Homo sapiens: one gene and its partners. The protein of the gene in region 2 purifies or fractionates together with the protein of the main gene of each other region. This does not show direct contact. Each region holds a gene or a part of one and is shown on either strand. Other genes may lie near its edges. The genes, in order: GSTM5, ERLIN2, CACNA2D1, CAT, TUBA8, ECH1 and FKBP14.

Region 1 (3,518 bases), on a different chromosome or scaffold from region 2:
AAGGCCCAACTCCACTATCCAGCCACTGTTGGAGGAACCTGCTCATCAGATGGTTATCCAATGAGTCCTGCTCCTTTGCAGATGACTTCATATAAAATACTGACACCTGCTGACCACACAGATTGCTACTGTGTGACCCAACAAACCAGGCTGCCCCATCTCAGGTTAAGCTATTCAAAGGACAGCTAGCAGCTATTAAAGCTGAAGTTACAGAGAGCTGCTGGCTCATTCTCTAAGACACGTACATGTAAAATCTTCTGAACGTTATCCTATATCTTCTCTGGTTAATACAACTATATCCAGAGCTCTAAATCCCAATAATGACTGTACAGGTTGGCAGAATCTTCCCTTGAGGGAATTCTTTCAAATTTTCACATGTGTTAAACATTTACTGTATTTCAGGAACTGTGAATGATACTCGAGGTAAAAAGTTCAGTAAGACATGGCTTTTCTCTTCAATAAATTTATGATTGAGTTTGGGTGAAAAACAAGTACCATGATTACAATACGGTGGGATACGTTTTATTGAGAAGTGTCATGACGAAGGATATCTAGATCAGGGAAGTCTATCAGGACAGGGTGAAAGAAGGCAGTCTGCCTGGGAGCTGCTCAGCCCCCTTCCCCATCAGCCTAGCCCCTCTTTGAACCATGCCAGTTCTAGACGGCCTACAGGAGCGCGAATGAGTGAGGAACTTGGCACAGAGCACCTTTCTGTAGTAATCCCCACAGTGAGGAACAGAGGGATGTGGCTAGAGGGCAGAAATGACCAAGGAAATTTATGAACCTGCCTGATCACCACCCCCAACACACACACACACACACCCATCCACTAAGCTCTGGCTGTGGACAACAGAAGACAAAAAACCACCCACAATTCGAGCACAGTCCTGAGTCAAGGGAGCCTCAGGGAATAAGACAAGACATGGCAGGCATGGTTCAGGCTTTACTGGGCATCACACGGAGCTGGGGTAGGGACCCAGCAAAGGGAGCAGGGCATACAGATGGTCTTTGAGGACAGTGCTAGGGAGCTCAGAGATCAGTCTGGCTTCTCAAAGAAGAGAAAAGCACTGACAGGAAAAGCAGTCAGGTTGGCGTTAGTGCAGGGAAAGGAAGACGTTAGGAGGGGGACTTTGATGGAGGACAGTGGGGAGCTGAAGCTTTAAAGAGCCTCGATGCGGGGAGGGATGATGTTAGAAGAAAGGAAGCCAATGAGGCCTTGGGGAAGAGAAGAGAGTAGAAAGAAGGAAAAAGGAAGAAGGCAGGTCCAGGGAGTCAGGCTGTCCTCCAGGGTCGCAGGCAGCAAGGTTGGCTCCTCCCTCCCATCTTCTGGCATCACTGGGCCCTATTTGCTGTTCCATGTAGCTGACTTTCCAAACAAAAGACCTCGGAGGAATTGGCTGGACTTCATGTAGGCAGAGATCTTCTTCAAACCCTGAGGGCGGGAAGAAGGGGCCAGAGCCAGGTCTGCTGTCTAGAAGGGCTCAAGTAGCTTTGCTGCAGGCACAGCAGGTCAGGGCCCTGGCCACAGCCTTTCCATGTGGGCTCAAGTGCTGGAGCATCACACGGTCTCTTAGGTCCCCAGCTCTTCTAAGTTAACTCTTCCAACTTCCTTTAAGTAATGTTATACCATAATAACAGCTACCATTTACGAAAGATCTACACTGTGCTGGGTGCTTTATATCCAACAGAAATTACAACACAGGCTTAGAAAATCCACTCGACTACCCTCCATGGTCAGTTCTATTATCACCGTTTCTCATATAGAAGAACAGAAGTTCAGCAACTTCCTCACACTCAAATAGCTAGTAAGTGGGACAGGGCTGGAATATAGCCTGGTTCTGTCTTCAGTTCTAGCATGTTTTTGCCAAATTCTCCTCCTCTTCCACCCAGCCACACCCCATGCCAGATCCTGTCACTCCTTGTCGGCACAAACATTCTCCTTTTTCACAGGGAGGTTCTTGGCTTGCCTAGGATTGCACACACAGAAAGGACCTCCAGCAGAACAAAGGGGCTCAGAACACACCTGTGCAGCCAAGAAGAGAGCACAGATCTCACCCAATGACTTAGCAAAACCTGGATGAAACTGAATAGGGTAAGGGTGAACCACCAAAGGAAGGCCAGACCAGGCTCTAATCATTCCCATTAAAGCATAAAGTCCAAACTTCTCCACCTGGTACCTGAGCTAAATCTCCCTATGTCCCTGTGCCCCCATCACATCTCCAGCCCTACTACTGCTAGCCAGGCCACATGACACTCAGGTGTGCTGCACACAATCTTACCAGGATTCAATGACCATGTAACTTCTAAAGAATTCAAAGAGATCCAGGGCTCCCTCTCCCCAAAGGGCCAGGGCCAGGCCCAGGCAGGCTCCATGCCCCAGCCCTCGGCTGTTCCCCACCGCTCCCCTCCCACCACCTCTTACATAACCCCAAGGCTGCTCAGGCTGGACCAGAACCAGAGCTGATGGGAACTAGCTGAGCAAGCAGATTTCTTGATGGGGAGTGGGAAAGGGAAACAGATTCTAGGCTCAGAAGCCTGTTGGACTAATGCCTCAAATCCCCAAATCTGTACTAAAGTAGGATTTGCTGCTCTCAAACAACTTCAACACAGGTGAGGGATGGTTCCCCGTGAGTGAGGGGCAGGCCCCAGGCCCGGTACCCAGGTGGTGCCACACACACCTCACAGGCTGCTCTGCCTGCAGGCCTCTCACTGCACTCATTTCCAGGATGGGGCAGTCATCTATGCAACTCCCACTGTGCCTCACACCCTGCCTCATGCAGAGGAGAAGGTCGGTGAATAGGAGTAAAATCAGTGTGCTACTCATCTCACAGGGGGAAGACGTGGAACATTGGAGGGAAAAAAAGAGAGGAAGAAAGATAAAGAAGGAGAGTGCCCCAGCACAGAGCACTTCAACACACACTGCTTCAACAGGGGCACCCACATATGTACCCTAATCCAGCTCCAGCCACAGCTCCGGATCTCAGGATTTTCCACATGGGGGTCCGATCATGCAAAGCTTCTGGGGGTGGCTATGAATACTGCCTGCAGGTTTAGTACTCAACATCAATGCCACTGTGTGTCAGTCCTACTATTGCCAGCTGCATCCGTGGTCCTGAAGTGCTCTGCCTCTTTCAAAGTGTTCTGGGCTGTGAAACCCAGGCTGGATGAGGCCTGAGGCTTCTCCTTTTGTCACAAATGGGAGAGCCCTGACTGCCACCCATAGATCCAGAGGCTCACAGGGAGCCCAGCACAGCCTCCACTGGCTCTGGGACCCTGAGCAAAGGACTGACCCTCTCATTCTCAGTTTTCTTATCTCTAAAATGGGCAAGATAATTCTGTCACCCTGTAGGAATGTTGGAAATTTCAAATTCTACACGATAGGTATAATGTGCTGGGCATGATTCCTGGCATGAAGCCCGTACTCAATACATACGAGTTATTCTTTGTGTAGCTCCAGGACTGGGAAAGCATCTGAAAGGAGAGAAAGGAACAAGGGGCATCAAAGAGAAAGGAGGATG
Region 2 (2,645 bases):
GCATCCTCTACCTCCCAGGTTCAAGTGATTCTCCTGCCTTAGCCTCCCAAGTAGCTGGGATTTCAGGCATGCACCACCATGCCCGGTTAATTTTCTATTTTTAGTCGAGATGGGGTTTCTCTATGTTGGTCAGGCTGGTCTTGAACTCCCGACCTCAGGTGATCCACCCACCTCAGCCTCCCAAAGTGCTAGGATTACAGGTGTGAACCACCGTGCCTGGCTTCTTTTCTTTTCTTTTCTTTCTTTAAACCAGGTTATTTTCTACACAACATTTTTGTAGAGGTATGTATCCTCAATACTGTGTTTGCTGCATTGCAATGTCATTCCCTTCTTCTATGTGCTATCCCATTTGTAATCTTATTCCATTTTTTTTCACGTGTTTGGCTTTCTACTTAGTGGCTCCCATTTAATAGCTGTATGTTTTTTAGCCCGTTTCTCCAGATTGAAGTTTTTGAATACATACATGCAAGGTACAGTGTGAAAGCCCTTCGTATGCATTATTTCATATAAGCCATGCAACTCATTTTATTAATGAAGAAACTGAGGCTTAGAGAGGTCAAAAAACTTATTCAAGACCACACACCTAAGAAGTAGTAGAGCAGTGATTTGAACTTTGGCAGTCTAACTGCAGTAACTACACTCTTAACATAACTATTCAATTGTTAAGATCATATTATTTGTGTAGCAGGCTCTCAAACCAATAGAAAAAGCTTGGGATCCCTGTTAAAAAAAACCTGAGAAAGCCTGGGCTAGGGTTGCCGGACTTAACAAGTAAAAATACAGGATACCCAGTTAAATATGAATTACACATAAGCAACAAATACTTTGGTATGAGTATGTCTCATGCAGTGTTTAGGACACATAGTACTTAGACTAAAAATTGTACATTGTTGAAATTCATATTTAACTAGGTATCTTATGTTTTATCTGGCAACCCTAAGCTGGGCAGCTTTCCAGAGTAAAGACTGGGAGTTCGTCCACTGAACTGATATCAAAATGAATTTTGGTTCACTTGAAAATATCTTTGTCCTTTGGAGCAGAATTGCAGTGGTGTGTGAACTGTTTAAAATGATAAATCTCTATAGCACCTACCAAGAATTATGCCACGTTCACAAATTCTGTATCGATAATGGGGATAGATTTTCATCTGTTTATTTTTAGAGAGATCTTGTACTTAACTCACTAGTCTGGGATGTTTTATTTATGTCACCTAATATTAACTATTGCTAAATTTCACTTTAATAAAAAAGTAGATACAAAGACTCATTTTACTTAGCAAGACTGCAAATAAAACTAAGACATAAATTCACATGTTAGTATTGTCCAAAACAATTCCTCCAGCTATCAACCCACGGCAATCAATCCAGCAGTATCATTTATAGAATGATTACTAAAACAAGAATCATTTCTCAGTTACAAATGGGGTCATTAAGCCCTTGGGGCTCTTTGAAAGTAGAAGTAGTTTGCCTACTTAATCATCAGTCTACACAAAGGCAGAAATAAAAAGGAATGGAAATACAAACACAAAATGATTGGTTATTACCTGTTTTATAAGGAAACAAGAAAAAAAAAACAGTGGCTAGAAACAACAAAAAAGCAGTGGCTGGAACCCTACTGAATAGAGCTTAAAGAAGTACTGGTTACATTCACAGACACAGTAGCCACTAGCCAAGATATAGTTTATCTCCATCAAACTTAAATAGATAAAGTCAGTAAGTATGACCATCTTACTTTCACTATTTACGCTCTTTAAATAGTAAAGGTATCGGTTTGAAAGATACATAGAACCATAGGAACAGTGAATGATCATTTATAAAACAGCTCCTTTTCCTGAATCAATATATTGCTAAAATTCTTTCAGTAACCCTCCCTTTTTATATGATCACAGATCCCTCCACATCTATTTTATTTTAGTTATATAAAAATTATTAATAAACTTTGGTTTCCTTGCATTCGGTCCTTATATTTTAAAAAGTGATTAAAAACAGTACTGAATATGAATCACTTCTGCAAAGTTTAATGAGTGAGAAACATTCAACCAAGGTGATTTTTCCTTGGAAAACCCTACAAAAACTGAATTTTATAAACAGTTACTTATTTTGATAGATGTTCCATTTATAAATAGCAGCCATTACTTCACTGTCTACAAAATTGCAGGCTGTCACATTTTACATGTTTAGAATTCAAATGTTTTAAGATTAGATTTTCTAGTAAGAGTTAAAATAAAAACAAAGTTACACAGACAGGTTAGTTGTCCTATGCAAATAAAACAGCTGATTTTCATGATTTTGCTATTTAGACAGATAAGAGACAACCATTGGATTGACACTAATGTGTAGGATAACATATTTTTTGTTTAAAGAGGAAATGATAGAAACTTGGGGTGGGGCAGCTGCAGCAGGACTTGACTCTACTGAGGCTCTTCTGTGCTCATGGGACAAGCTATCGCAGGATGTTAGTACCGGAGAGGCCCTCAAGTTAAGACCTGAGCAAAGTGTGCTATTCAGAGAAGCTGAGCTATCCCTGCTCCCGGTTCTACTGTGGTGAATTGGTGTTTTCTGAGGTCTAGGCAACAAGAGCTCAGAGTAGAAGGAGTAGACATTTTCGGGAAGTGGGATGCTGGGCATGTCATGTTGCTCTAACAA
Region 3 (3,500 bases), on a different chromosome or scaffold from region 2:
TATGGTAAAACAAATGATGTGTCAGTTAAGTATCTTCTTTCATTTTTTGCTCTCCTGTTTAACATACATTCTAATATAAATTTTCTTTTGGATTAAAGTAGTAGTTAACCTGTTCTAAGAGTTAACACTAAAATAGATGTTTTTCAGACAAGGAAATTTTGATATGATTATTTCTCTGGGTTAGGTGTTTCTTTTGGAAATGTTTGTCTCCCTAAGGTGTGAAACATAAATACATGATATGGTAGCAGCCACATAATGTGTATTGGTTGATATATAAATGGAAAATATATCATTTTTATGCTATAGTATGCACATGTCGTATTGGTATTTTTAAAATGTAGCTTTCAAAAAGGGTAGTTGTCCGTTTTTCTAGAAATAATTTCTTGTCACATGTTAAAAGACTTCTATTTTAATATTTAGAATTACATGTGTGATAGCCAGTATTATAATGGTAATTTAAATTTGTCCTTAATTTTAGAATCTATTTACAAATGCAATTAAAAAATATATAGTTATAACTGTTAATATCAAACTTTTATCTCAGTCACATCAAAATGCCAGTCAGTCTACAATAATTGGCTGAGAGCCTATTGGTATACAGGGATTTTAATATAAAGTGTACAATGGTATAAATATAAAACTAAGAATTGTGGATATCCACAGGAAATAAGCATAAATTCTCATAGAAGTATAGTACTTTTGGCTTTAATTACTTAGGATATTTTTTTTTCCTGTTATTAGAGAAATTTGTATTTAAGGCTATAAAGGAGAAATTTTGTATGTCAGGATATTGTAATGGATATCTGTTCCATGCATTATAAGTGACATAATTATTCTCACTTGAAGTCAGCAGTTTCTGTTTACATTTTACATACACAAGGAAATGTGCCATATGATCAATTATGAGATAAAATATTAAATGTAAAATAAAACCTGAAACAGTGAACATTAATAAACTTTTCTCAAGTCTTTAATTTTGTTCTCATCGGCTTAACCATATAACATTTACTATTCCACAGATGTATGTTTTAAAATATGCAACAATAGATATATTTTTCCACGTAAGTAGTAATATTATGTTAAATTTATTAATGTTACACATAGCTATATGTGTAGCTATTTGGATTGGCATTTGAATGAAAATTAAGCAGACTGAAATGGATATAATTTTTGAAAAAAATGTAAGAAAATACAAGAATCTAAGCATATTATGGTTTATTAAAGGGAAATGAAATGTGCCTTTATTATCTCCCCCTCCCATGGCTTTCATTAATTTAATTTAATAAATATACATAAAATTTGAATATAAAGTAGGTGGTTCATTTTGACAATAGATAAGAGCTTTACAGTTGTTTTCTTCACAACAAACTGACTGTGTAGACATCTTTCTGTTATTTCTCCAACATTGATAAAACTAACAATAAAATACTCTTCTTTCTAGGGTTTACACATAGTAAATTTTTACAAAAACATAACATATGGAAATTATTATTGTGCTAAAATTTAGTATATATAGGAGTATATATTCATAAACAATAATGCATTGAGAAATTTTACAAATAATTTTTACAATAGTGCTCATAACAAACTATATAATTTACATATTCTCTGGAGTATCATTATATAAAGCACCTCTTAAGGTTTCTCTTGATTTCCCTATTTCTCAATATAGATGCAAGTTTCCAAGAATTTCCTAGCACATGTCTTCAAGCTATTTATAACTTTAAATTGGAGATTTAAATGGGTAAAATGAAACATATCTTAGGCAAATCATGCAATTTGTTGATCTCATTTAATGTCTTATATGTATGGACATAAGCATTTCTAACGTAAGTATACATAACATTTTGGGAAAAAAATCAGAATTTCAGTATTTCAAAAAAGTAACATTTTATTGTTATTAAAATGACAACGGTCCATTATTTCTATTAAAAGAGCTGTCTGTGGTAGTGTTTCAAAAAGCAGGTCAGCTGCTTTCCATGGGGAACAAACTTTGTTCTATTATATCGCCTCCACATTTACTTAAGGCTTACAGTGTGCATCAAGCACTGTGTCACTAACTGTGTCAACCAGTCTTTCTTTTCATGAACTATCTGTGAGCAGTACCACGACTGTTCCCAAGGCTTTCATACAGTTGCTTTCCAGTAAACTAGGAATGGGCTGTGATGGCCAACCATGTAGCTTACACAGGATTCATTTTTTTGTATGTGCACTGAAACATGTAAACGATTGCGTAGTGTTGTTTACAGAGTTGAAAGAAAAAGGCAATTGACCTCAATGTCAATTAAGTAAAAGTGGCAGCACTTTGTGAAAAAATACTATGTTACTACCTTTTCCTTGAGAGTCCAAAATATTAACATCGTATAATTAGATAACTTTCCTAGTTTGTGTCACTATATAGTATTCTATTTAATAGATAGTATTTTATGTATATGCAAATACACATATATACGTGTGTATGTCCATACATATTTTTAAAACTTTAAGTGGATTGACAGAGTAGAAAAACCTCAGTAAGGTAAGTTTATTAACAAGTGTGCATACCTTAGGTCTTCTGTCAGTCCACAACTGTTTTCAGGGATTAAATCTAACTTAATAACACCAGCATTTAAGAATGATTTGCCAAGACAATTAAATGAGATATTGCATACACAAGCAGCCTGAAAATGCTCAAGTCCTATAGAGACGGGTTACTAACATAATTGACAAGTAATTAAAAAAGTGATTCTAAAGACAGTTTTGCTGTCTTTTAAACAAGTGTGAGAAAGAAACTATACCATTTGAAATGTTGGCACCTATTAAAAGTTCTTTACATACTAAGCAGTTTTATTTCTTTCATTTAGATAAGATATACTTTGAAATTTAGAATTAAACATATTTGGTGGTGTGATATTTTAGGAATGAAGGCAAATGTGCACAGGTTTAAAATTTTTATTTGTAAAATATAAGCTCTTAAATATCCCTTCTTTGTAGGCTTTACATCTTTTGTAGTAATTCAGTACATAGAATCAGCTACTCTTAGCAGTTTTTAAAAATGAGTAAAGAAAGCGGTCATTGCTCCTTTATATTTTGCCACTTGTTTGTACAGGTTATGAACGAGGAAAAGATTGACTTTGTGGCCTCAACAAACCGGCACACTTTTTATAGTTAATTTCAATAATTCAGAATTAGGCTGTTATATATAAAGCAATATTTGAAGTTCTCTTTGAATATGAATGTGGGATATTTCTGGCTAAATGTTATTTTAACATTTGCTTCTGCTGATTTTTTTTAACCATATGCTCTGTGGATTTAAAAAATTAGGATACATTTAAAATTCTGTATCATAAATGGAAGAAAAACTTGAACTGGTGGCAGTAGAAAATAATGGTGCTGGCCATTTTAAATGCTTCAGATTTGGGGATAATCTTACTGTCTATTTGAAGCTCTTTTTTTCTGTGTAATTAAAAATACGCTATGGTGGTCTTCTGGCAAATGATGGAAAGCAATTCCAATGTTAT
Region 4 (3,500 bases), on a different chromosome or scaffold from region 2:
CACTTCCCATTAAGTCAATCTGTCTTAAAATGACAAATCTAAGACCAATGGTAACTGTTCTTACTTTATCTTATTAAATACAGAAAAATGTGTTGAAAAAAGTAGTCCAGACAACTCGCATTCTTTTCTTTCTGCCTTTCCCACGGCTTCTCCTCAAATGCCAACCTATTTGAAATCAATTTAAGTCAACAAACATTTGTTGAGTGCAAAATACTCTATTACCTACCAATATGGGATCCCTGATGAAGAAAATGGGGGTGTTATTTCCAACGAGATCCCAGTTACCATCTTCTGTGTAAAATTTCACTGCAAACCCACGAGGGTCCCGAACTGTGTCAGCTGAACCCGATTCTCCAGCTACAATATTCAAATGGAAACAGGAAGCATAAGCCACAGCACTTTGCATCCAAGAAGCCTGGAGACATAAAGAAGCACCTGGATCCATCCTTTCTAATCCACTTCCAAGAACTAAATTAGGTATTTAAGTGCCCGGGTTATTATTTCTACCCACCAGCTAATTCAGTCCACAAATCAAACAAAATAATTAATTGAGAGCAATAAGAGAACACATGTAATAACAGCTGACAATGTCATTCATTTACCATAATAAGATAACTTTGTTCAAACAGGTAATTGAACTTTTAATTAAAATAAGGGAAGAAAATAATTATGAGGCTTAAAGTAGTGACAAACAGAATAAGTGAGTTGTCAAAATGATGAGGTTAACATTAAGAAAATGAGTTAAAATATTGGTTCTTAGTTCTTAATTTCATTTATTTTTACATTCCACAGTATTTTTAAAATGCAGAGACTGACACAGAAACGGAACTAGTGAAGCACTAGGTATGTTGAAATATAGTATGATAGATCTAATACTATCTCTGTAACGTGAGAAACATCACTTAGCCTCTCAAAAATAAAAAGAATCCCACTCTGCAAAGTAGATCTACAAATCAGAGATTATATCTGTAAAGCACCTAACCACAGTTGGCACAGAATTAATTCTCAATAAAGGTCAGCTGTAGGCATAGTTATTAAATAAGATTTCCACTCTATTCTTCTGTTAGAGGCAACCACTTTTAGGAAAGCTCTTTCCAAATGTCACAGAATTGCAGAGGTAGCCTCTGTGTAAGTGTGATTTCCTAAGACCTCAACAAACAGAAATACAAGTAACTTCCTATGTGTCTCCAAATATGTCTTCTACTGTAAAACCTTGACATAATTTGGAGAAGTGCTTGCTTCCTATTTTCTAATAACTTTTTCTTTAAGTTATAAACATCCCCAAAAGGTGAAGTTGAGTTAAGCCATACCAATCACGCCAATAAACCAACTTACCAACAGTGGAGAACCGAACTGCGATGGGAGTCTTCTTTCCAATATGCTCAAATACCTTTGCCTTGGAGTATTTGGTAATGTCATGTGTGACCTCAAAGTAGCCAAAGGCCCCTAACGAGAAAGACACAGAAATCCTTACCATGAGACCATTACTCAGACATTCAGGTCCTCAACAGGCACCTGGGTGACAAGAGAAAATGATGGTTAGCACCAGCCTTCTGGGAGCTTCCAGTATGTTGGAGGAAGGGGAAATGCCCAAACACAAAATAAAGAGGGTGAAATGCAAAGCCCTATTCTATCATTCAGTGCTAAGTCGAATGCCACATAGCTGGAGCCAAGAGAAGGAGGTGAGTGAGGCTAGAAGTCGTCAAGGTTGGCCCAAGGACACAGGGTCTCAGAGGGGCCTGAAGTACAGGTAGGACCTATGAGAGAAAGTGAAGAACAGAGAGAAGAGGAGATGAAAACATAAGAGAAAGAATCTTTTCAACACTTAGCAACGATGATACAAAGCAAGCAATAAACTAAACAAGTCAAGATGGAAAAATACACACAAACCACTGGAGAAGATGGGGAGAAACCTTATCCAGGAAGAAGAGATGAAGAAATGCAGAAGTCCTAACTGGAAGTCCAAGTCAGCAAGCTAAGAGAAAAACTTCCTTTCTGTGGAGCTCTTTTTCCAACTGAGTTTTTCACTTTCTTTCAAATACCACCCCCATCTTTTGTGTCTGATATAACAGCGATAAAGAAAGTTTTACAGAAATTGTTGGAAAAAAGGAAAGGAAAAATCATCACAAACCCACCACCCTAACATAACTACCCCAAATTTTGCAGCTCATTCCAGTAATTACCCAGTAAGTACATCATTTAAACTTAGTTGCAATTGCAGTGCATGTGTCTATGTCTGTATTTCTGTACAGCAGGTCCTCAAACAACATTGTTTTGTTCAACGTTGTTTCATTATAACGTTGATGAGAAAAAAATCTATTCCTAGCTGAGGCCACCATCTGTGTGGAGTCTGCATGTTCTCCCCATGTCTAGATAGGTTTTCTCCTGGTACTCCAGCTTCCCCCCACATCCCAAAGATGTGCGTGTTAGGTGAACTGGCATGTCTGAATGGTCCCAGTGTGAGTCCACCCTGCAATGGACAGCATCCTGTCCAGGGCTGGCTCTTGCCTTGTACCCCAACCTGCCAGGACAGGCTCTGGCCTCCCACCACCTTGAACTGGAATAAGCTAGTAAATAACTATCTTATTTTACTAATCTTTCTTAAAGGTATGTATGGCTCACATTTATTTCAATGTTTAATATAAGAGGTATTTTGAGTCTCTATTTAGAAGTTTGATGATGTTTTATCAATCAGAAATATGCCATAGGAACTTAACTCTTGCTTACGTCAATTAGCCTATCATAAAATTGGTTTCATTACATGTCGTTTAAAGTCAAAGTTTCCAAGAACCTATTGATGTTAAGTGAGGACTTATTGTATTTTTATTCCTTCAATGATGGGAGAAATGGAAGACTGCTATTTTTAAAAGAAACTATTTTATATATAATGTTTAACCTGAGGAAATAACCATCATTTATTTACTAATTTCCCTACTGCTGGATGTTTTTCCTTTCTCCCACAAATGGAGATTTGACACTTGTGTTAAAGGTCTTCCAATCCTTTGGGAAATAACACTTGACCCAGGTGCTGTGAAACAATCTTTTTACAGCAAATAAACACAGCACTTACCTGCTCCTTTAGCATGCACAACTCTCTCAGGAATTCTCTCTCGGTCAAAATGAGCCATTTCATCAGTGAAAACCACATCCTGAACAAGAAGGGGCCCACGGGGCCCTACTGTAATAACATTAAGTTTGTCTCCTACTGGGTTACCAGCTCCAGTGGTCAGGACATCAGCTTTCTACAGGAACACAGAAAGAAAGTGCAGGAGAGTTAGCACAATCAAACCTTTCATTTACACTGTCACGGGTACATAGCTTTGCAATGTTTATACCATCTGCCCTCTTTTTTAATTTCCTGTGTCCAAAGTACTAAAATCTGACAGGATGGGCCATTGCCTGAAACTTTTAGTGATGCCCCAGAAACCCTTGACAAATCTCAACACTAATCTGCTAAGAAACTTGCTCTGAAGAGCAGAAAGATGATTTTGGAGCCTGAA
Region 5 (4,077 bases), on a different chromosome or scaffold from region 2:
CCCCAGAACCCTCTAACTGCCCATTTTTGCAGGGAGACGGGCTCCTTCGTGCTCTCCAGTCCTAACGGAATGGAGTTAAAGAAGCCGTGTTGCAGATGTTCCCACCTCCCCATAAACCACAGAAAACTTCTCTGTGCCCTGGTATCATTGGCATGGGCTTGGCTTAGGGCACCTGGCCAGGATTCTCCATACCACTTCCCAAAAAAGGTGTCATAGTCTGAGTTCCCAGAGAGCTGCGTGCTAGAACACTGGGAATGGATGGGAATGGTCTGCTGTGGGAGTAGCCTGCCGGTCCCAGCACGGGCAGGTGGCTCAGGACAGAGGCTCTGGTGCCCAGCAGATGTAAACTCCAGCCCCTACGCAGCTTCTTACCAGCTGTGTCACTTTAGGCTCCAGGACAGAAATGCTAAAGGGTATTGGTGGTACCGTGCAGTGGGTAGCTGGGGAGAAGGGGTTGGGGGTAAGTTCACAGAGGAAAAATGCTCATCTGCCTAGCAGCTAGAGAAATGCATTTAAAAATACACTTAAGGATTAGTTACACTTTTCTTGCCCAGAGCCTACAGAAATTCCAAATCGAATTCTCCTTAACACCAAGGTCACCTCCCCCAAACCCCCACCAGGGAGGGAAGTGAAGGGGACAGGACAGCAGCCTGAAACTTAATCCTTAGAAGAAATACAGTCATTTTTGTAAGGGTGAGATTCTAGGGGTCTAGGTTTATAGATGTGTCATTTTAGCCTTTTACAAATGAGCCAAATGATATTTTAAAAGTTTCTGTGAGTGTAAAATGTTCAACAAAAAATATTAGCCATCAAGACAGTGCAACGCACACAAGTTAAATGTTCTAGATAGAACCTACTAGACAAAATTGAGTGTTTCAAAATAAATGAAAGGTGGTCGCATTTCAAAATATTTAACCATAGGTTTTCAGCTAAACACCCAAATTCTTAAGCACGTTCAAAATAAAGTTTTGCTGTTTGAATTGTTGATTTACCAGGCATTGTCAGAAACACGTCTGTGGATCACACATTCAAGCTTGTGCACAGGGCTGGGTTAAGATCCTCGACACGCCCCTGTAAACATCCTCTGGGCTCCACTCTGTACCACAATGGCATTCAGATCCAAATTAAAGCATGCAAGGGAAGCACTTGGAAAATCCTAAAACACTAGCTACCTGCTAGATATTATAAATATTAAATATCAATTCTAGAGTATGCAGCCTAGCATTTGCTTCAAAATTATGGAGGGAGGGAATAAATGAAGTGAGACAGGTCAGAAGTTGGTAATTATTGAACTTAGATGATGTATATAATCGCTAATTATACCATTTGCTCTCCGTTTGCATATGTTTGAAATTCCCTACCATAAAAAGTTTAAAAATAATGAAATCTAAGTGGAGTCTTGGAAATTTGAATTATAACCCTCTTCATTTCGCAGGTAAAACAAACACATCCAGAGAGGTTAAGTGACCTTCCTGAAGTCACACAGCTAGCTGCAGAGCCAGGAGTCAAAATTCTGAACTGGCAGCTCCGGGCCCTTTGTGTGGCCTCATACCAGGGTCCTCAGGCAGAAATAGGTTCCTGTGGCCACCCTCCCTAATATTCCCAAGTTCTTTCAGTTCCCAGGGGTGTCTGGGAGCCCGCTAGGAGGAGGGAGGGTGCTGACAAAACTGAAGCTGGAAGGCTAGAGCTCCGGGGGAGCCAGGAGGCCCTGGGCACGGGCCAAACGTAACAGGGCGGGGCGGAGGGGGTTCTCGCCTGCTTTCTGGATCACTGACACCTGGAGCAAGCCTGCCCAGGGAACCCGACCTTGGCCATGACATAGGCTTATTCTGCCCTCACTCTGCCCCCAATCTTTCCAGCCCATCTCCCTACTGCTGAAAGATCAGGGGTCCAGGAGGGATTCCTGGGATTCTGGGCTTTGGGAAAGTGGACTGGGGGCAAATGTTAACCACCAGGGGCACTGGGGGCGGAGAGGGGGACCCTAGAAAGAGGAACTGAGTGTTTGCAGCCGCCCCTCAGTAAGATCCAGGGGCGGGGGCAGGGAAGGGAGCAGCCGCGATCCCCCTAAGCCAGGGTAGGAAACAGGTCGAAGGTCCCCTGGCCTTTGGAAGCAGAGACTTCTTACTCCCAAAGTCCTTCGACTCTGACCGCTGGAAAGACTTGGGAGCTGCTGAGTGCGCCCGGAGGACCCCGCCGCGCTGGGGCTGTGCGTGCAGCAAACCCAAGCCGCTGGCCAGGCTTGCGAGAAAGACCTCCACGCGTGGGGGGACCGTGGCGCCCTAGGTCCTCTGTCACATTCCGGGCCCTGTCACATTAGGCTGGGTTCGGAGACGTGACTGCATCTGGCCCCCCAGTCGCCCCGGCCCAGACCACCCATCCAGAATCCCCGGACTCGCCCTTCTCTCCACTCTGTCCACAGGCTGCCCATCTGGGGACCCCAGAATCTCGCCCCCTTCTCCGTCGGGCTCCCCAGGGCCTCCCTCCCCCTCGTCTGCACGCAAAGCTCCCTTAGGTCCCTTTAAGGAACAACTGGCCCCTGGTCTCTATTTCCCCCATACGATAAAGGGCACCGGGTGTTCCCGCCCGAGGGTGCGGACTCCTCGACCCTGAACTGCCACCCCCAGAAGGCCTTGAGCCCTGCGGCTCCAGGAAGACGGGTCCGTGCGCCTCCGCGTAGACTCGGCTCTCGGTCCTACGCCTGCCGCGCGCCCGCAGCCCGCCTGGCCCCGGGAAGCCTCACCATCGCTGCCGCTGTCCTCGCCCGCGCACCTCTCAGCTGGGCCTGCCCGCCCCGACTGCTCCAGATACAGCCGCCTCCGCCGTTGTGACACACCGGGAGGGGGGGACGCCGGGGACAGGCGCGCCGGGCCCGCAGCTGCCCCCCGGCATCACAGTGCCGGGGAGGGGCGGGCAGGTCACAAAGGCCCCTCCCCGCCCACCCGCGGCTCAAATCTCCGGGTCCTCGGTCCCGCCTCAGCAGCCGGGGGCGCTCGCAGCGGGGACTGCGCCCGCGGGGGAGGCTGCCCTATTACCAAAGCGCACGTGTCCACGTTCCAACACCGCCGGCGAGAGCAGCCTTCGTGACCCCAGCTGCCGGAGAAAGAAATGTAAAATGCAGCCAGGCGAATCGCGCGGGTCTCCCCAAACTTCCGTTCTCCTCCGACCCGCTGGAAAGGCTCCTGACTGGGGTGCAGCTGACCGGAGCGGGCTGCAGCGGGCCCGGGTGCCAAGGTGCCGTCTCAGCTGGGCGCCCTAGGGCCGTGTGTGCTTGGCAAGCTGCAGGGCCTCTGCTCCCAAAGCCTGTGCCTCCTGCCGCCAAGGCCCGCCTGGTTGCTGGAGACGGAAATGAGATGGCATACACAGAGCTCCTGGTACAGGCAGGTGCTGAAGACTGTTCCCGTTTTTACCCTCTCCCCGGATACCTCGCACCTCCACCGGGATTTTCAAATCTCCCCCCTTGATCCCTTCCTACTTTTAAGCCCCAAACGTGTCCAAGTCACATCTCCTATGTAATCCAGAACTCATACCAGGGTTCCCCTGCCTCTGCCCAGTAGTAAGACCCGCCAGATGCTGTTGGTTGCCCCCTGCTCGGGAAGGGGTGGGCACTTGGTAAAAGCCCCTCTTCACACTTTAGATGTTGGCCACGTTGTCACCCTGCCCATCTCCCCTCACTTCCCCCCAGGTGGGTGAGGGGCTGGATGGTCTTTGTTCCTTGTTCTCACTGCTGTTTCTTGTTCTTTCCCTCCAGTGGTCAGTTCCATTCATGTTGAAAGGTGTACCCCAGCCTCTCTCTTCCACTTTCCTCAGCACCAAGCCAACGCAGGCAAATTCATAGGTTTTCCTTAAGACAATACCACTTTAGCCAGACGTGGTAACTCCCCAAGTTTCCAAGCACAGTTAGAGATCTTCCTACCCTTCTGCTCCTAAGACATGCCTGCTTGTGGCCAATAGAGAATGAGAGCAGATTTCTGCTTACCTATGCGGCAATCTGTTCTGTTGGCCACCCATTCATAAACGATAGTACATGTGTCGTAATCATCTTTGCATTTGAGAGAGTACCAAACACAGTGCTTTACC
Region 6 (3,500 bases), on a different chromosome or scaffold from region 2:
CTGTGTTCTAGAAGGACTAAGGAGAATTAGAAAAAGCCCATGAATTATTCAATGATGTCCACCATAACTCAGGGAAAGGAAGAAAATCCTTCTGCCTTCCTCGAGCAGCTATAGGAGGCCTTAAGAAAATATACTCCCCGGTCACCCGAATCACTCAAGGGTCAATTGATTCTAAAAGATAAGTTTATTATCCAATCAGCCGCAGATATCAGGAGAAAGCTCCAAAAGCAAGCCCTGGGCCCTGAACAAAATTTGGAGGCATTATCAAAACCTGGCAACCTCAGTGTTCTATAATAGGGACCAAGAGGAACAGGCCCAAAAGGAAAAGTGAGATTGGAGAAAGGCCGCAGCCTTAGTTATGGCCCTCAGACTAACAAACCTTAGTGGTTCAGAGAGGACAGATAGTAGAGGCCAATCACCCGGTAGGGCTTGTTATCATGCGGTTTACTAGGACACTTTAAAAAAGATTGTCCAATGAGAAACAAGCTGCCCCCTCGTCCATGTCCACTATGCCGAGGCAATCACTGGAAGGTGCACTGCCCCAGCGGACGAAGGTTCCCTAGGTCAGAAGCCCCCAACCAGATGATCCAACAACAGGACAGAGGGTGCCCGGGGCAAGCGCCAGCTCATGTCATCACCCTCACTGAGCCCCGGGTACGTTTAACCATTGAGGGCCAGGAAACTGACTTCCTCCTGGACACTGGCGCGGCCTTCTCAGTGTTAATCTCCTGTCCTGGACGACTGTCCTCAAGGTCTGTTACCATCCGATGAATCCTGGGACAGCCTGTAACCAGGTATTTCTCCCACCTCTCAGTTGTAATTGGGAGACTTTGCTCTTTTCACATGCCTTTCTTATTATGCCTGAAAGTTCCACACCCTTATTAGGCAGGGACATATTAGCCAAGGCTGGAGCTATTATCTACATCAATATGGGGAACAAGTTACCCATTTGTTGTCCCCCTACTTGTGGAGGGAATCAACCCTGAAGTCTGGGCATTGGAAGGACAATTTGGAAGGGCAAAAAATGCCCGCCCATTACAAATCAGGTTAAAAGATCCCACTGCTTTTCCTTATCAAAGGCAATATCCCTTAAAGCCTGAAGCTCATAAACGATTACAGAATATTGTTAAACATTTAAAAGCTCCAGGCTTAGTAAGGAAATGCAGCAGTCCCTACAACACCCCAATTCTAGGAGTACAAAAACTAAATGGTCAGTGGAGACTAGTGCAAGATCTTAGACTCATCAATGAGGCAGTAATTTCTCTATATCCAGCTGTAACCAACACCTATACCCTGCTCTCTCAAATAACAGAGGCAGCAGAATGGTTCACAGTTCTAGACCTCAAGGATGCCTTCTTCTGTATTCCCCTACACTCTGACTCCCAGTTTCTCTTTGCCTTTGAGGATCCCACAGACCACACGTCCCAAATTATGTGGACGGTCTTGCCCCAAGGGTTTAGGGATAGGCCTCATCTGTTTGGTCAGGCACTGGCCCAAGATCTAGGCCACTTCTCAAGTCCAGGCACTCTGGTCCTTCAATATATGGATGATTTACTTTTGGCTCCCAGTTCAGAAGCCTCGAGCCAGCAGGCTACTCTAGATCTCTTGAACTTTCTCGCTAATCAAGGGTACAAGGTGTCTAGGTCAAAGGCCCAGCTTTGCCTACAGCAGGTCAAATATCTAGGCCTAATCTTAGCCAGAGGGACCAGGGCCCTCAGCAAGGATGGAGAGGGAGGACAGGGAGGAGAGGGAGAAGGAGGGGAAGGAGGGGAAGGAGGAAGGGAGGAGAGGGAGGGAGGGGAAGGAGGAAGGGAGGAGAGGGAGGGAGGGGAGGGAGAAAGGGGAGGGAAAGAAAGAAAGGGACCTGGGAATATGTTAATGGACAAAACAGAAAGAAATAGTTTACTGTCTGTCTTCCCCACTGAGTTGGGAACGCCATGACAACAGGGCCTGGGACTGTCCTAGTCAAGACTGGGTTCCCAGCACCAGGCTCTGGGCCCTGTGCAGAAATCAGTGTATGAAATATTTTGCTTCTGGTTCAGTCCTAAAGGGCCAACCCTCCCACGGACAACTACATACGCTGGCTGGACAAGAAACAAACAATTATCTGAAGGCACTGGGCAGATTCTGGAGGGAGTGACCACTTAGGAGAGTGGCAGAACACTCTCTCGGTGTTTTTGAAAATGGTTTTGAAAACTTTCAGCCTGAGGGCAGACTGAAATTGTGCTTGAAGAGCCACAGGATAGAGTCCAAGGTGACCAAAGCTGCCGGGAAGTGAGGGGGGATATTCCAAAGAGGGGAGAGCCAGAGCGAGGAGTCCCGAATTCTGTGTATCAACTCTGCCCTAATCTCTTGCTGGGAGATGTATGTTTTTGTTGTTGTTTTTGTTTTGAGATGGGTTCTTGCACTGTCACCCAGGCTGGGTGCAGTGGCACGACCACAGCTCACTGCAGTTTTGACCTCCCTGGTTCGAGCCATCCTCCCACCTCAGCCTCCAGAGTAGCTGGGAGTGTGGTCATTCATCACACCCAGCTAATTTTTGTTAGAGACAAGGTCTCAGTGTGTTGCCCTGGCTGAAGATTAGTTTTTAAATCTTTTGCTGGGGGTGCATGTATGGTCTGTAAATCAGCAAGAAGCCAGGCACAGTGGTTCACGCTTGTAGTCCCAGCACATTGGGAGGCCGAGTCAGGAGGATCGCTTGAGTTCAAGAGTTGAAGACCAGACTGGGCAACATAGCAAGACCTCATCTCTACAAAAAAATAAAAATAAAAACAGAAAAACCAAAAAAACTAATTCCAACTAAGCTACCAAAACACGAAACTCAACACTCTTTGGAACTATATGATAGAATCCAGAGTATCCACATCTTATTCCTATATCCCAATATCCAAGAAACAATCCAAACTAACTCAAAATACAAAGAAACAGGAAAGTGAAGCCGTTTTCTTTTTTTTGAGACAGAGTCTCGCTCTTGTCACCAAGGCTGGAGTGCAATGGCGTGATGTAGGCTCACTGCAACCTCTGCCTCCTGGGTTCAAGCGATTCTCCTGCCTCAGGCTCTCCAGCAGCTGGGATTACAGGCATGCACCACCACGCCGGGAAAATTTTTGTATTTTTAGTACAGACGGGGTTTCACCATGTTGGCCAGGCTAGTCTTGAACTCCTGACCTCAAGTGATCCACCCACCTCAGCTTCCCAAAGTGCTGGGATTACAGGCATGAGCCACTGAGCCCAGCCTGCCATTTCCAAGCGAAAAGATGATAAGGAGACTGACCCCAAGATGACCCAGATGTTGAGATTAGAAGATAAGGAGTTTTTGTTTTGTTTTTATTTTGTTTTTAGAGGGAGTCTCGCTATGTCACCCAGGCTGGAGTGCAGTGGCGCCATCTCGGCTCACTGCAACCTCTGCCTCCCAGGTTCACGCCATTCTCCTGCCTCAGCCTCCCGAGTAGCTGGGACTAAAGGTGCCCGCCACCATGCCTGGCTAATATTCTTTTTTT
Region 7 (3,308 bases), on a different chromosome or scaffold from region 2:
GTGCACCACCACGCCTGGCTAATTTTTGTATTTTTAGTAGAGACAAGGTTTCACCATGTTGGCCAGGCTGGTCTTGAACTCCTGATCTCAAGTGATCCACCCTCCTTGGCCCCCAAAGTGCTGGGATTACAGGCATGAGCCACCACACCCAGCTAACTTCAGTTTTTGATGAGACAGAAATGGGAAAATGTAGACTGGTTTACTACTTTATCTTATGATACAATGTTATTGTAGTATAATATACTATAGACTACCCATTAAAGAACCAGGAAGGATATTCCGCTAGCCTTAAGAAGTAAATATTGAATATAAATATAACTTTCTACCTCATCTATAACATATTGATACATTTTATTACAAAGAAACTCACACATAAATGATTTGTCCTATTTATCATAATAGGCCACCAATCACTAGGAGCCAAGCTTCATCAGCTTAAGTCCTAGGTAGCATGTCTCAATGCATACATATTTATATGTTATTAACCGTGTTTCTTTTCTTTTTTTCGAGACAGAGTGTCCAGGCTGGAGGTGATCTCGGCTTACCGCAACCTCCGCCTCCGGGTTCAAGTGATTCTGCCGCCTCAGCCTTCCTGGGTAGCTGGGATTACAGGCACGCATCACCACGCCCGGCTACTTTTGTATTTTTAGTAGAGATAGGGTTTCTCCGTGTTGGTCAGGCTGGTCTCGAACTCCCAACCTCAGGTGATCCGCCCGCCTCAGCCTCCCAAAGTGCTGGGATTACAGGCATGAGCCACCATGCCTGGCTATTAACCTTGTTTCTAACTTCAGCATTGCACATCTCCTTAGTAAAGCAGTAGCCATTAACAAGTCAGGTCCAACAACCATTTTCCTCTGGTCCTCAAGCAGAGACTCAGAGCCAGTTACACATAAACTATTTCATTATAACATGAAAATAGCAAGCCTTGGGCTATTGCAAAAGGCTTTTCAAATGTTGACCTCTAACTTGGAGAAAATAGAGGGAAGCAGAAATATAGGGTGCTAATTTGTGCTATAACCTGGTCTCATGTCGTGGTATATTCCCAGTTGCAACATTTTAAATTTATAAGTGAGAAAGTAAAACAAAGCTTCATATCTGTGAAAGTGAAAAATTGTCCAGAAGTCTTCTATTCAAAGACCAATTAGCTTTTTCTTCCCAATAACTTATCAGAAAGAAATGGGTACTTAGAAACCTAAGGGGTTCTTTAAATAGGAGTCAGAAAAAATATATAAAAATAAAAAACAAAGCAAGAAAGAACATTGTATAAAAATAAAATGTTCTTTAAAGATGACTGCCCTCTCTTGAAAGATGAGTGCTATATTAAAAGGGTAGATGTATCTCTATAACTCATCGTGTTTATATGTAAATTCTCTGGCAGATATAAACCCATCTTTGTCTTCATCTTCTTTATCAAAAATATCCTCCACCAAAGCATCATGATGACTTTCATTCACCACCGCACCATGTTTTTCAAACTCCTTCTTTAAATATGCTTTAACCTACAAAATAACAGATCCCATTAATAACTTGGATTCATAAGATACCCACATTGAGCCAATCAATATCACAGACATGGACTGTTATTATATTTAGTTCATTAACTAAATATAATACCTTCTAAACAGCCATTTTATGACATAGTTTTAATGATAATTAAAAAATAATAGAAACTTTTTCCCTTAAAAAAACTGTTGCTAAACTGCTAAAGTGGAGACACAAAATATTGCTCAAAGGCAGGGCCAGGTGTGGTGGCTCATGCCTGTTATCCCAGCACTTTGGGAGGCCCAAGTGGGAAGATTGCTTGAGGTCAGGAGTTGGAGATCAGCCTGGCCGACATAATGAAAGCCCATCTCCACTAAAAATACAAAAAAAAGTTAGCCAGGCATGATGGCATGCGTCTGTAATCCCAGCTATTCAGGAGGCTGAGGCAGTTGAATCGCTTGAACCTGGAAGGCAGAGGTTGCAGTGAATCGAGATTGCGCTGCTGCCCTCCAGCCTGGGCAACAGAGTGAGACTCTGTCAAAAAAATAAAAAATTAAAAAATTAAAAATATATATATATATATAGCTCTCTCTATATATATATTGCTCAAAGGCAGAGATAAAGCTTATGTCATGTATACAATCCTCATATAGGGCTTATATTATTGGAGAATACCCAATGAGAGCATACTACTTGTTCTTAATCTGAATCTAAATACTAGGCATTTCTTTTCTTTTTTTAGACAGAATCTTTTTTTTTTTTTTTTTGAGACGGAGTCTCACTCTGTTGCCCAGGCTGGAGTGCAGTGGCGCAATCTCGGCTCACTGCAAGCTCCGCCTCCCGGGTTCACGCCATTCTCCTGCCTCAGCCTCCCGAGTAGCTGGGACTACAGGCGCCCGCCACCACGCCCAGCTAATTTTTTGTATTTTTAGTAGAGACGGCGTTTCACCGTGTTAGCCAGGATGGTCTCGATCTCCTGACCTCGTGATCTGCCCGCCTCGGCCTCCCAAAGTGCTGGGATTACAGGCGTGAGCCACCGCGCCCGGCCTTTTAGACAGAATCTTGCTCTGTCACCCAGGCTGGAGTGCAGTGGCACCATCTCAGCTCACTGCAACCTCTGCCTCCCAGGCTCAAGCAATCCTCCTACCTCAGCCTCACACGTACCTGGGACTTACAGGCATGTGCTACCACATCTGGCTTTTATATTTTTTGTAGAGATGGGGTTTCACCATGTTGCCCAGGCTGGTCTTGAACTCCTGGGCTCAAGCAATCTAAACCCCTCAGCCTCCCAAAGTGCTGGGATTAGAAGCATGAGCCACTGCACCCCATGGACACTTCTCTTAAAACTAGATTAAATAGTGGCATCTTTGACTTGAATAAATGTCTGCAAGTAGTGGGTCTTTTGGGTTTTGGTTATGATCATGTGATTAGATTGAGTCTAATCACAACCTTTCAATCTCAGAAAGTCAGGTCTGATAAGTGCCTAGACTACAATTTTCCATTTTCATTTGTTTTTTTGTTTTTCTTTTTTTTTTGAAATAGAGTCTTGCTCTGTCACGCAGGCTGGAGTATAGTGGCACGATCTCGGCCCACTACAACTTCCAACTCCCAGGTTCAAGCGATTCACCTGCCTCAGACTCCCTAGTAGCTGGGATTACAGGCACCTGCCACCATGCCTGGCTAATTTTTGTATTTTTAGTAGAGACAGGGTTTCACCAAGTTGGCCAGGCTGGCCTCGAACTCCTGACCTCAGAAGATTTGCCTGCCTTGGCCTCCCAAAGTGCTGGGATTACAGGTGTGAGCCACCATGCCCGGACTCCATTTTC

Evidence for each region.
Region 1: the proteins of ERLIN2 (region 2) and GSTM5 purify together in Homo sapiens (affinity purification with mass spectrometry; 3 studies listed by BioGRID and IntAct, with this or other methods). This does not show direct contact.
Region 3: the proteins of ERLIN2 (region 2) and CACNA2D1 purify together in Homo sapiens (affinity purification with mass spectrometry; 2 studies listed by BioGRID and IntAct, with this or other methods). This does not show direct contact.
Region 4: the proteins of ERLIN2 (region 2) and CAT purify together in Homo sapiens (affinity purification with mass spectrometry, with the first as the bait; one large-scale study listed by BioGRID). This does not show direct contact.
Region 5: the proteins of ERLIN2 (region 2) and TUBA8 purify together in Homo sapiens (affinity purification with mass spectrometry; 2 studies listed by BioGRID and IntAct, with this or other methods). This does not show direct contact.
Region 6: the proteins of ERLIN2 (region 2) and ECH1 purify together in Homo sapiens (co-immunoprecipitation; one large-scale study listed by IntAct). This does not show direct contact.
Region 7: the proteins of ERLIN2 (region 2) and FKBP14 purify together in Homo sapiens (affinity purification with mass spectrometry; 3 studies listed by BioGRID and IntAct, with this or other methods). This does not show direct contact.

The regions. Positions count from the first base shown.
Region 1 is NC_000001.11:109,715,251-109,718,768, reverse strand, and holds the end of GSTM5 (glutathione S-transferase Mu 5), read right to left. Parts: intron 1,433-3,518; coding exon 1,343-1,432; 3' UTR 501-1,342; downstream 1-500. UniProt on the Homo sapiens protein: Conjugation of reduced glutathione to a wide number of exogenous and endogenous hydrophobic electrophiles.
Region 2 is NC_000008.11:37,756,278-37,758,922, reverse strand, and holds the end of ERLIN2 (erlin-2), read right to left. Parts: 3' UTR 501-2,645; downstream 1-500. UniProt on the Homo sapiens protein: Component of the ERLIN1/ERLIN2 complex which mediates the endoplasmic reticulum-associated degradation (ERAD) of inositol 1,4,5-trisphosphate receptors (IP3Rs) such as ITPR1.
Region 3 is NC_000007.14:82,437,278-82,440,777, reverse strand, and holds part of CACNA2D1 (voltage-dependent calcium channel subunit alpha-2/delta-1 isoform 1 preproprotein), read left to right. Parts: intron 1-3,500. UniProt on the Homo sapiens protein: The alpha-2/delta subunit of voltage-dependent calcium channels regulates calcium current density and activation/inactivation kinetics of the calcium channel. Plays an important role in excitation-contraction coupling.
Region 4 is NC_000011.10:34,448,934-34,452,433, reverse strand, and holds part of CAT (catalase), read right to left. Parts: intron 3,243-3,500; coding exon 3,071-3,242; intron 1,447-3,070; coding exon 1,336-1,446; intron 358-1,335; coding exon 227-357; intron 1-226. UniProt on the Homo sapiens protein: Catalyzes the degradation of hydrogen peroxide (H(2)O(2)) generated by peroxisomal oxidases to water and oxygen, thereby protecting cells from the toxic effects of hydrogen peroxide.
Region 5 is NC_000022.11:18,109,532-18,113,608, reverse strand, and holds the start of TUBA8 (tubulin alpha-8 chain), read right to left. Parts: upstream 2,801-4,077; 5' UTR 2,744-2,800; coding exon 2,741-2,743; intron 1-2,740.
Region 6 is NC_000019.10:38,825,295-38,828,794, forward strand, and holds part of ECH1 (delta(3,5)-Delta(2,4)-dienoyl-CoA isomerase, mitochondrial precursor), read right to left. Parts: intron 1-3,500. UniProt on the Homo sapiens protein: Isomerization of 3-trans,5-cis-dienoyl-CoA to 2-trans,4-trans-dienoyl-CoA.
Region 7 is NC_000007.14:30,013,395-30,016,702, forward strand, and holds part of FKBP14 (peptidyl-prolyl cis-trans isomerase FKBP14 precursor), read right to left. Parts: intron 1,500-3,308; coding exon 1,341-1,499; 3' UTR 1-1,340. UniProt on the Homo sapiens protein: PPIase which accelerates the folding of proteins during protein synthesis. Has a preference for substrates containing 4-hydroxylproline modifications, including type III collagen. May also target type VI and type X collagens.